Linked DNA regions of Homo sapiens. The gene in region 2 interacts genetically with the main gene of each other region. Each region holds a gene or a part of one and is shown on either strand. Other genes may lie near its edges.

The links.
Region 1: changes in CMAS (region 2) and MTOR together harm fitness more than expected from each alone (negative genetic interaction), as found in Homo sapiens cells (one large-scale study listed by BioGRID).

The regions. Positions count from the first base shown.
Region 1 is NC_000001.11:11,126,480-11,130,051, reverse strand, and holds part of MTOR (serine/threonine-protein kinase mTOR), read left to right. Parts: intron 1-213; coding exon 214-314; intron 315-1,100; coding exon 1,101-1,197; intron 1,198-1,499; coding exon 1,500-1,598; intron 1,599-1,925; coding exon 1,926-2,048; intron 2,049-2,245; coding exon 2,246-2,428; intron 2,429-2,907; coding exon 2,908-3,042; intron 3,043-3,255; coding exon 3,256-3,430; intron 3,431-3,572. UniProt on the Homo sapiens protein: Serine/threonine protein kinase which is a central regulator of cellular metabolism, growth and survival in response to hormones, growth factors, nutrients, energy and stress signals.
Region 2 is NC_000012.12:22,055,248-22,060,575, forward strand, and holds part of CMAS (N-acylneuraminate cytidylyltransferase), read left to right. Parts: coding exon 1-44; intron 45-207; coding exon 208-363; intron 364-3,319; coding exon 3,320-3,453; intron 3,454-5,328. UniProt on the Homo sapiens protein: Catalyzes the activation of N-acetylneuraminic acid (NeuNAc) to cytidine 5'-monophosphate N-acetylneuraminic acid (CMP-NeuNAc), a substrate required for the addition of sialic acid.

The DNA of each region.
Region 1 (3,572 bases), on a different chromosome or scaffold from region 2:
ACTGTCAGCCCAAGATAATAACAGTTATGATACAGTTGCCATTTATTGAGTCTTTGCTATGTGCCAGGTAATGATTAAAGATTTTTCATGCATTAACCGATTTAATTGTTATAACCACCCTTTGAAGTAGGTACAGTTAGTATGCTCTTATGCCCATTTTACAGATGAGAAAGCAGAGGCAAGAGTGTCGCTAACACGTGTGTGTTCCAACAGGATCTGTCCAAAACCCTCCTGATGTACACGGTGCCTGCCGTCCAGGGCTTCTTCCGTTCCATCTCCTTGTCACGAGGCAACAACCTCCAGGATACACTCAGGTATCAGAGAAGGGAAGGATGCAACTCTGGTAGGCCATGTTAATGGCAAGACCTAGAAGTCACACGTAAAAGTCCTCTTTCCCTTCCTGACCCTGATCAGGACACCCAAGATCGATGTATGTGCCTTTTTTCTGCACTGCATTTAAGGAGTAACAGCTGACTGGGCCCCACCTGTGTGGGTGAAACCTACAGAGAGTGAGGAGGAGAAGTGGAGTGAGAACTCTCCATGTGTGGTTTATTATGGAGGGATTATTAACCCATCTGTTAATCACAATATTTCTTTTTTTCTGACCACCCTGTTGCCTATTGAAGTCACAGTATTTCTAAAATCCCTCAGCAACTTGGAGAGGTCTAAACAAATGACTCAAATCAGTTAACCCAGAGGGTAAAGGTGACAAGGTCCACATCCTCCTTCATTTGAGGATCTCCAGCCAGCTAAGAGCCAGGTGTCCCTGTTGCCTCTGCCGTACAGCGACTCTTACATGTGCAGACTTGTGGCTTTCTAAAGGTTATCCTGGCTCGTCTGTTTGATGTTTGCATACATGCCATGGTGACCCCTCGGTGACCTGGGATGAAATGCTCATTTGCTCAGGGTGACTCTTACGGTGTTCAGTCAAGAGCACTGCCACCCATCACAGACACCTGCTCCCATGGGAGGCCAAACACATTTGAGAGTTACTGGTTGGAGTCCCTGCCAGCTCTCTTCTCAGGAGCCTTAGAGATGAAAAACAGGCAGGCAAAAACTGGGAAACTAAATTTTCTGTGACTTTCTCATTTCTTTTTCAGAGTTCTCACCTTATGGTTTGATTATGGTCACTGGCCAGATGTCAATGAGGCCTTAGTGGAGGGGGTGAAAGCCATCCAGATTGATACCTGGCTACAGGTGAGGATACTTGGTTACAGGTGAAGGTGGCTCCAAGTCTCTCTTCTGTGTGTCTCCTCTTACAAGCATGCTGTGTTCAGTGTCACAAGGCAGTGTGTGTTAATACAGTGCTAAGGAAGTAGGGCTCGGTCCCAGTGTCAAGTGTCCATATTTTCTTTATTTTCTTTTAGAAACTAAAGGGAAGGGAATGAACCATTTCAGAGCATCAACCGAAACAAGTTAAAAGAATTGATCTTTGCCTAGAAGAATAACTAGTTGTTTCAAGTCTCATATGCTACATACTGTGTCTTTTTGAATACCAGGTTATACCTCAGCTCATTGCAAGAATTGATACGCCCAGACCCTTGGTGGGACGTCTCATTCACCAGCTTCTCACAGACATTGGTCGGTACCACCCCCAGGTATGTGGAGACTCTGGGCAGTTTCTCATCTAACCACTGGTTTGGTGGTCAGCCTTTCCAAAAGCTGCCCTGGCGACACAAGCGCAGGAACTGGGAGCCATGTGTTCCATCCTGGCCCAGGAGGGTCTGTCCAGCCAGCCGTCCCAGAGGGCCCGGGAGCCTTGCTAAAAAGAAAGCGTTCCCTCGAAGACTGAGCCCCTTCCTGGTAGTCTCAAGCAGATGTTAATGTCACACTCACCACTTGTTTTGTTATTCTCCTTAAAATTCATACCAGCTCTTCCCCAACCCACATTTCCTTTATAGATGTTTCTTCTGTTTTTCCCTCAGGCCCTCATCTACCCACTGACAGTGGCTTCTAAGTCTACCACGACAGCCCGGCACAATGCAGCCAACAAGATTCTGAAGAACATGTGTGAGCACAGCAACACCCTGGTCCAGCAGGCCATGATGGTGGGTCGGAGCCACTGTGGGGCTTCATAGACCCTGGTCCCTTAGCTGGTGGGCGCAAGTGGGATTGTTTTTCTTCCTCGCATTGGTGCTGTGCACTTCCTCTGACTGCTGGAAATAGTACCTCCTGTGTCTCCAAAACAGACCTTTCTGAGGTTAGCTGATTCTTGATGCTTCTCTCCTTCTTCTCTTGGCTTCAGGTGAGCGAGGAGCTGATCCGAGTGGCCATCCTCTGGCATGAGATGTGGCATGAAGGCCTGGAAGAGGCATCTCGTTTGTACTTTGGGGAAAGGAACGTGAAAGGCATGTTTGAGGTGCTGGAGCCCTTGCATGCTATGATGGAACGGGGCCCCCAGACTCTGAAGGAAACATCCTTTAATCAGGTATGGGGTAAAAAACACGAAAGGACATAACCCTGTAGAAATATTCTGCCACTAAAAAAAAATGAAATGAGAAAAGTTTTTATAGAATGAAAGGACGTGACCCAAGGCCTTTGTCAGATTTCTTTTCCTCTGGCCTTTCCACTGACTTTAATAAAACGAGCTCTGATGGAGGTCACAGAGCATAAAACATCAGAAATTAGTTACAGGGACCCTTCTGAATTTTAACTGGAAAAGCCCAAGATTTCTCAAGAGGTCATCTCGTCTCTCCTCTCACCCTTCCTTCCCTATAAGCCATGCTGCTGGTTTGGAAGCTCCAGGGTTGGAGGCCTGCACCTATGCTCTTGCTTTCTCCAGCCCCCTGCCAGTGTTTTCAGGCCACAGCGGGCTCCTGAGGAATATCTGCAGTCAGCCTGGGGATTTTGCCTCCTGGGTTGGTTGAGACTTTGATAACTTGAAAACGTGCCTGCTTTCTCTCTCAGGCCTATGGTCGAGATTTAATGGAGGCCCAAGAGTGGTGCAGGAAGTACATGAAATCAGGGAATGTCAAGGACCTCACCCAAGCCTGGGACCTCTATTATCATGTGTTCCGACGAATCTCAAAGCAGCTGCCTCAGGTAGGATCTTCAGGCTCCTGGCAGGGTTAACTGTCATTATAGTCCTTTCTGTTTTACTGTCTATGAATGTTCTAACACTCATTCCAAAGCATCTGGTTTTACTTCTGCTTTGGGACAAGTAATTGTTATTAGCAATCCACTGAAAAATACTTAAATTGCGTTTAAATTCTTCCCTGGAGGCAGAACACTAAATCCTTTGGTAATTATTTACAGCTCACATCCTTAGAGCTGCAATATGTTTCCCCAAAACTTCTGATGTGCCGGGACCTTGAATTGGCTGTGCCAGGAACATATGACCCCAACCAGCCAATCATTCGCATTCAGTCCATAGCACCGTCTTTGCAAGTCATCACATCCAAGCAGAGGCCCCGGAAATTGACACTTATGGGTAAGGACCATTGTGCACTTCTGTCACCCACTTCTCCCTCCTACACTGGCTGAGACCCCTTCCCTCTTCTGAAATTACTGCTTGCCATTCCCACTACTCACCTATCATAGCTACATCTCTCCCATGCTCATTGAGAGGAAAA
Region 2 (5,328 bases):
TACCTCACTAGATGCCATCATAGAATTTCTTAATTATCATAATGGTATGAATTTGATTAATAGTTTATTCAAACCTTTATGTACTTTTCTACTTCCTTTATTATCTTATAAGACTTGTTTTAACATTTGAATTCCAAACCTTAATATTACTTGCTTGCAAGGAACTTTTTTTTTAAATATCCTTTTCATTTCTCTTGTCTTTTTAAGAGGTTGACATTGTAGGAAATATTCAAGCTACTTCTCCATGTTTACATCCTACTGATCTTCAAAAAGTTGCAGAAATGATTCGAGAAGAAGGATATGATTCTGTTTTCTCTGTTGTGAGACGCCATCAGTTTCGATGGAGTGAAATTCAGAAAGGAGGTAATCTCTTTTCAGTCTTTATTTTAGCTGATTTTATTGAGAATCAATTTTTTTGTATATAAATATCCTTTAGGCATGAGGAGAGTAAAAGGGGAGCTGTAAAAGAGAGTATTTGACTCATTACTTTAGTAGGTAATGACATTTACAATCAGCTGTAAATCTGTTATCGAGCCAACACAGCTAGACCAAATTAATTCTTTGCTTTACTCTTTACAAAGGGACATTCTAATCCTCTTATTTCTGTTTGCCTTTTGAGGCAGATATGCTGTTTTTCTAGATCAAATACTTTTATGTTTGTTCTAGACATGTTTGATGAACTCCATACAAGTCATATAGAGATAGAAAGCATCCACCAAAGTGTTCTGAAGGATTTCAAGAATGACATTTTGAAGTTCTTCCCCAAATTCCTAACTCCATATATAAGAAGGGTTCCCTAGGGTTTACTAGGCATTTTGCCTGCCATGTCCAGTGTGCTATAAATCTTATCCAGAGAATTATTATAAACACTGTGTTTTTCCATTCAGTAATGTACATTTTAGTTGTTTCGTAGGGATTCCATTTTCTGTTGAAATTTTCCATTTTTTTATCCATTTTAAAAAAAGGTCATTTCCTCTAATTTAACATATTTTTGATAGCTATTTGAAAGTCCTTGATTGCAAATTTCAACATCTAGTCACTTACAGTTCTGTAATCTGCTTCTTTCTTGATTGTGAGTCACCTATTTCTGCCTCTTCATTTGGCTCATGTTTAATTGTATATCTGGCATAGACACTTGAGTACATATTTTCCTCCAGAGAGGGTACACCTTTTCTTCTATCAGGAAGATAGGATAAGGGGCTGATCACTTTGATTCAATTAGGAGTTGGGCTGGGTTGAAACTTTAATTTCATCTCACCTCTTAGTATAGGTGTCTTATTAGGAGATACATCTTGTATGTGTTACTGACACTCACACCCATACCCTACTCTTGCTAACAAGACTAAGGGATCTGATGACCACAATACTATTATGATGTCTCCCTGCTTTCCAGCCCATTCCCAGCTTCCCACCCAGTACACTCAGCCAAAGTCTTGTAAGGGGGAAGCATTAGGTGGGGAAAAACGAGCTATATGTTTGTGGTTCCTACAGATGACAATCTGTAACTCAAGTCCACAAGGTCATTGAAAGCCCTTCTAGTTTTTGCCTACCTCAGCAGAGTCCCTCTGATTATGCAAAGCTTGATCTTTCTTGTACCTTCTCCTCATACTCAGCAGATATGACCAGGGAGAAAGCAGCCACCGATACTAGGAAAGATTTGTCCCTCTCTTTTCTTCAAAGTACCACTTGAATTATCTAGTTGGTTTATTACCTGTCTCTACCCCTAGATTGTATACTTTTTGAGAATAGAGAGAGTTCTGGTCACTACTCTGTAGCCAGTGCCCATAAAGCTATGTTATCTCTAGCTATTTAATTTGTATTTGCTAAGGTTTTTTCCTGGGTTATTTCAAACACTGGGGTGGAATTGAACAGGGGATGATTTCGTTAAACAAGTAAGTAGAGGTTATTCCTAGAAGCCTGTATAAACACAGAAATGGCAGCAAAAAGTGAAGAAAGATTCTGGAGAGTAACCAGCTATTACACACACACACATACACACACACACACACACACACACACACACACACAGATTTGAGGAAAACTCAGTGGAAAGGCAAAGGAATCTCTACATGACAGTACCAAAGTCTTCATTGATTACATTATGTTCTATTCATTAATGTTGACATTACTGAGCCTTTATTATCAGGTATACTCATAAACATAATTTATTATTATGTTTAGTATATTTTTAACTAATGGTAAGAATGTATAATATGTTACATAAACATTTTCATCAATATAAAATCTTCAATAATTTAATGGAGAAATCTTTACTTTTCAGCAATAATTGTATAAAAACAAGTTCTCAACCACATTAGATAAATAAAACTTATTTCTGTATATGCAAACAATGAGAACTAGATTAAAGGGCCCAAATATTAATATAGGTATTTTATGACAAATTCAGTTCTTTTAAAGCTACTTTAAGGTTGTCTTGATGTCCTCCCAAAGCATAATATTTGTATGAATACCTTAATTGTTCCACATTTCATTATAAAATACTTTAGTTTTCTAGTAGCTATTGGAAAGCAAAGATAAATCATCAGAATTATTACAGATTTTATTCCTTTAAAAAAGTTCTTTTTTTTTTTTTTGAGACAGAGTCTCACTCTGTTGCCCAGGCTGGATGGAGTACAGTGGCGCAATCTCGGCTCACTGCAATCTCCCCCCCCCGGGTTCAAGCGATTCTCCTGCCTCAGCCTCCCAAGTAGCTGGGATTACAGGTACCCACCACCATGCCCGGCTAAATTTGTGTTTTTAGTGGAGATGGCGTTTCACTATGTTGGCTGGGCTGCTCTCGAACTCCTGACCTCAAGTGATCCGCCCGCCTTGGCCTCCACAGTGCTGGGATTACAGGCGTGAATCACCACATTCAGCCTAAAAAAAGTTCTTTATCAGGCCGGGTGCAGTGCCTCATGCCTGTAATTCCAGCACTTTGGGAGGCCGAGGTGGGCGGATCACGAGGTCAGGAGTTCGAGACCAGCCCGGACAACATGGTGAAACCCCATCTCCACTAAAAATACAAAAATTAGCCAGGTGTGGTGGTGCATGCCTGTAGTCCCAGCTACTTGGGAGGCTGAGGCAGGAGAATCGCTTGAACCCAGGAGGCGGAGGTTGCAGTGAGCCAAGATCGCACCATTGCACTCCAGCCTGGGTGACAGAGCGAGACTCTGTCTCAAAAAAAAAAAAAGAAAAGTTCTTTATCTAGATAAAGAAATGCTCTGCATTCTGAGTTCATTTTTATTAACTTTTTTAGTTACTAAATTAACACTTTCTATATTCAGGGCAACGTGGACTTACTCTAACTTTTTGCTTTTAGTTCGTGAAGTGACCGAACCTCTGAATTTAAATCCAGCTAAACGGCCTCGTCGACAAGACTGGGATGGAGAATTATATGAAAATGGCTCATTTTATTTTGCTAAAAGACATTTGATAGAGATGGGTTACTTGCAGGTTTGTACCTTCATTTTGCATAACCCTTTTAAGCGCTTTTGTAGGCATACTTTGAGTTCTAGGGAAGAAGTATGGTACAATTTCTTTATGATAAAGAAAAGTATCAACCTATAGAGGAAAGGTAATAGCCAACAACATTTGCTATCTGAGGCATTTATCCTGCAGGTTTACCCCAAAGTGATCTTTGGAATCCATTCAGTAAATATGCAAGGAATTCTGCTACAACGATAAAAAAATGAATCAAGTACTGGGTGTCTACACATGTCCTGGTACTCATATTATTCCACTCAAAACTACGTAATCCATGTTTGTGTTATAGTTATATTGTGGCTGTAGGGTTGAATAACTTCTATTGCTTTAAAAAGACAAATAATTTCATAGAGGTGAAAAGAGTTACAACCTGGGTGTCAGGAAACCCGGAATCTTTTTATATATATATATATATATATTTTTTTTTTTTTTTATTATACTTTAAGTCAACTGCCTCTTACTATGTAAGCTTGAATATGTATCATTTTATCTGTCCTGACTCTCATTTTCAAATAACAGATTTAATGTCTCTCTCATTTTAGAGCCTGCAACATGGTTGCATCATATATTTCTTAACTTGTTAATTTTAGTTATCATTATTATTTATTATTTACTGTGTACTTCGGAGTAGGTGAAACACTTTGCATATGTTATCTTATGTAATCTGCATAGCGAATGAATGAAGTGGACATTTCTACCCAGTTTTACAGAGGAGGAAAACTGCCTCACTGAAATATGAAGTAATTGACTCAAGGCAAAAACAGCTAATAAATGGTACTGTCAGGATTTGGATTCAGGTTCTTATGTTACTCAAGAAATAGCGGTTTTAAAGAGAGAGAGAGAAACCTCTCCATTGTGTAATAAAAATTCTAATGGGACTATTATTCTGAGCAAAAGAGAGAAAAACATTTTTACAAATCTTCTGGTCAATGTGTAGGCAAACTATAGACTAGCTGTTTAGTTAAATTTAAGTGTTCAGAAAAATTGGATTTGACACACATAGATACTACCATTTTTAAGCTTTTTTCTAAGGAGGACCATGATTAACCCATTCCTAAAGTGTGGAGAAAAATGTTTCTCATTAAAACAAGGTTTATGAAGAGACTGACAATTCTGAAAAAAAAAATGAAATTGAAATTGTCCAGTAATTGATCTTGTCATTCAAATAATTACTATCAGAAGAAAGACCCTTTCTCTTGCTGACCCTTGCCTAGAATCAAGAGACTGCCCTTGCCTTTGCCTGCATGTGACTTGGATGACTATTAGTCATTTTCATCAGTAGCTCAGAGATCTAAGAAAACTCTGTACAACAGATGCTACAGTTATTTTTCCTCCCCTGTGTTGCCTGTTAGTTGCAAATTAGAACAGAAGTTCCAAAAACCTTAATACTGCTTTTGGATGATGACAGGAGAGACTTCTTGAAAAAAAGGAGGATATGATTAAGGGATTTCCACAAAATCCCTTGTGGTCAGAAACCTGGAGGATGTAATATTTCTGCTTTTTTCAATATTAAAATAGAAATTTTCTTAAATAGGGAACTTGAACTGTTTAGATAGAATTTGAAAAATGTTAAGGTTATTTCTTTTGTGTGAGCTTTCTCCTTAAAAAAAAAAAAAAAAAAAAAAAAAAAGCTGGGCGTGGTGGCTGAAGCATGTCATCCCAGCACTTTGAGAGGCCAGCTTGAGGCCTCAAGAGGATAGCTTGAGGCCAGGTTTCCAAGACCAGCCTTGGCAACATAGCAAGATCTTATATCTACAAAAAACTTTTTAAAAATTTAGCCGGACATGGTGCTGTATACCTGTAGTACCAGATCCTTAGGAGGCTGAGGTGGGAGGATTGCTTGAG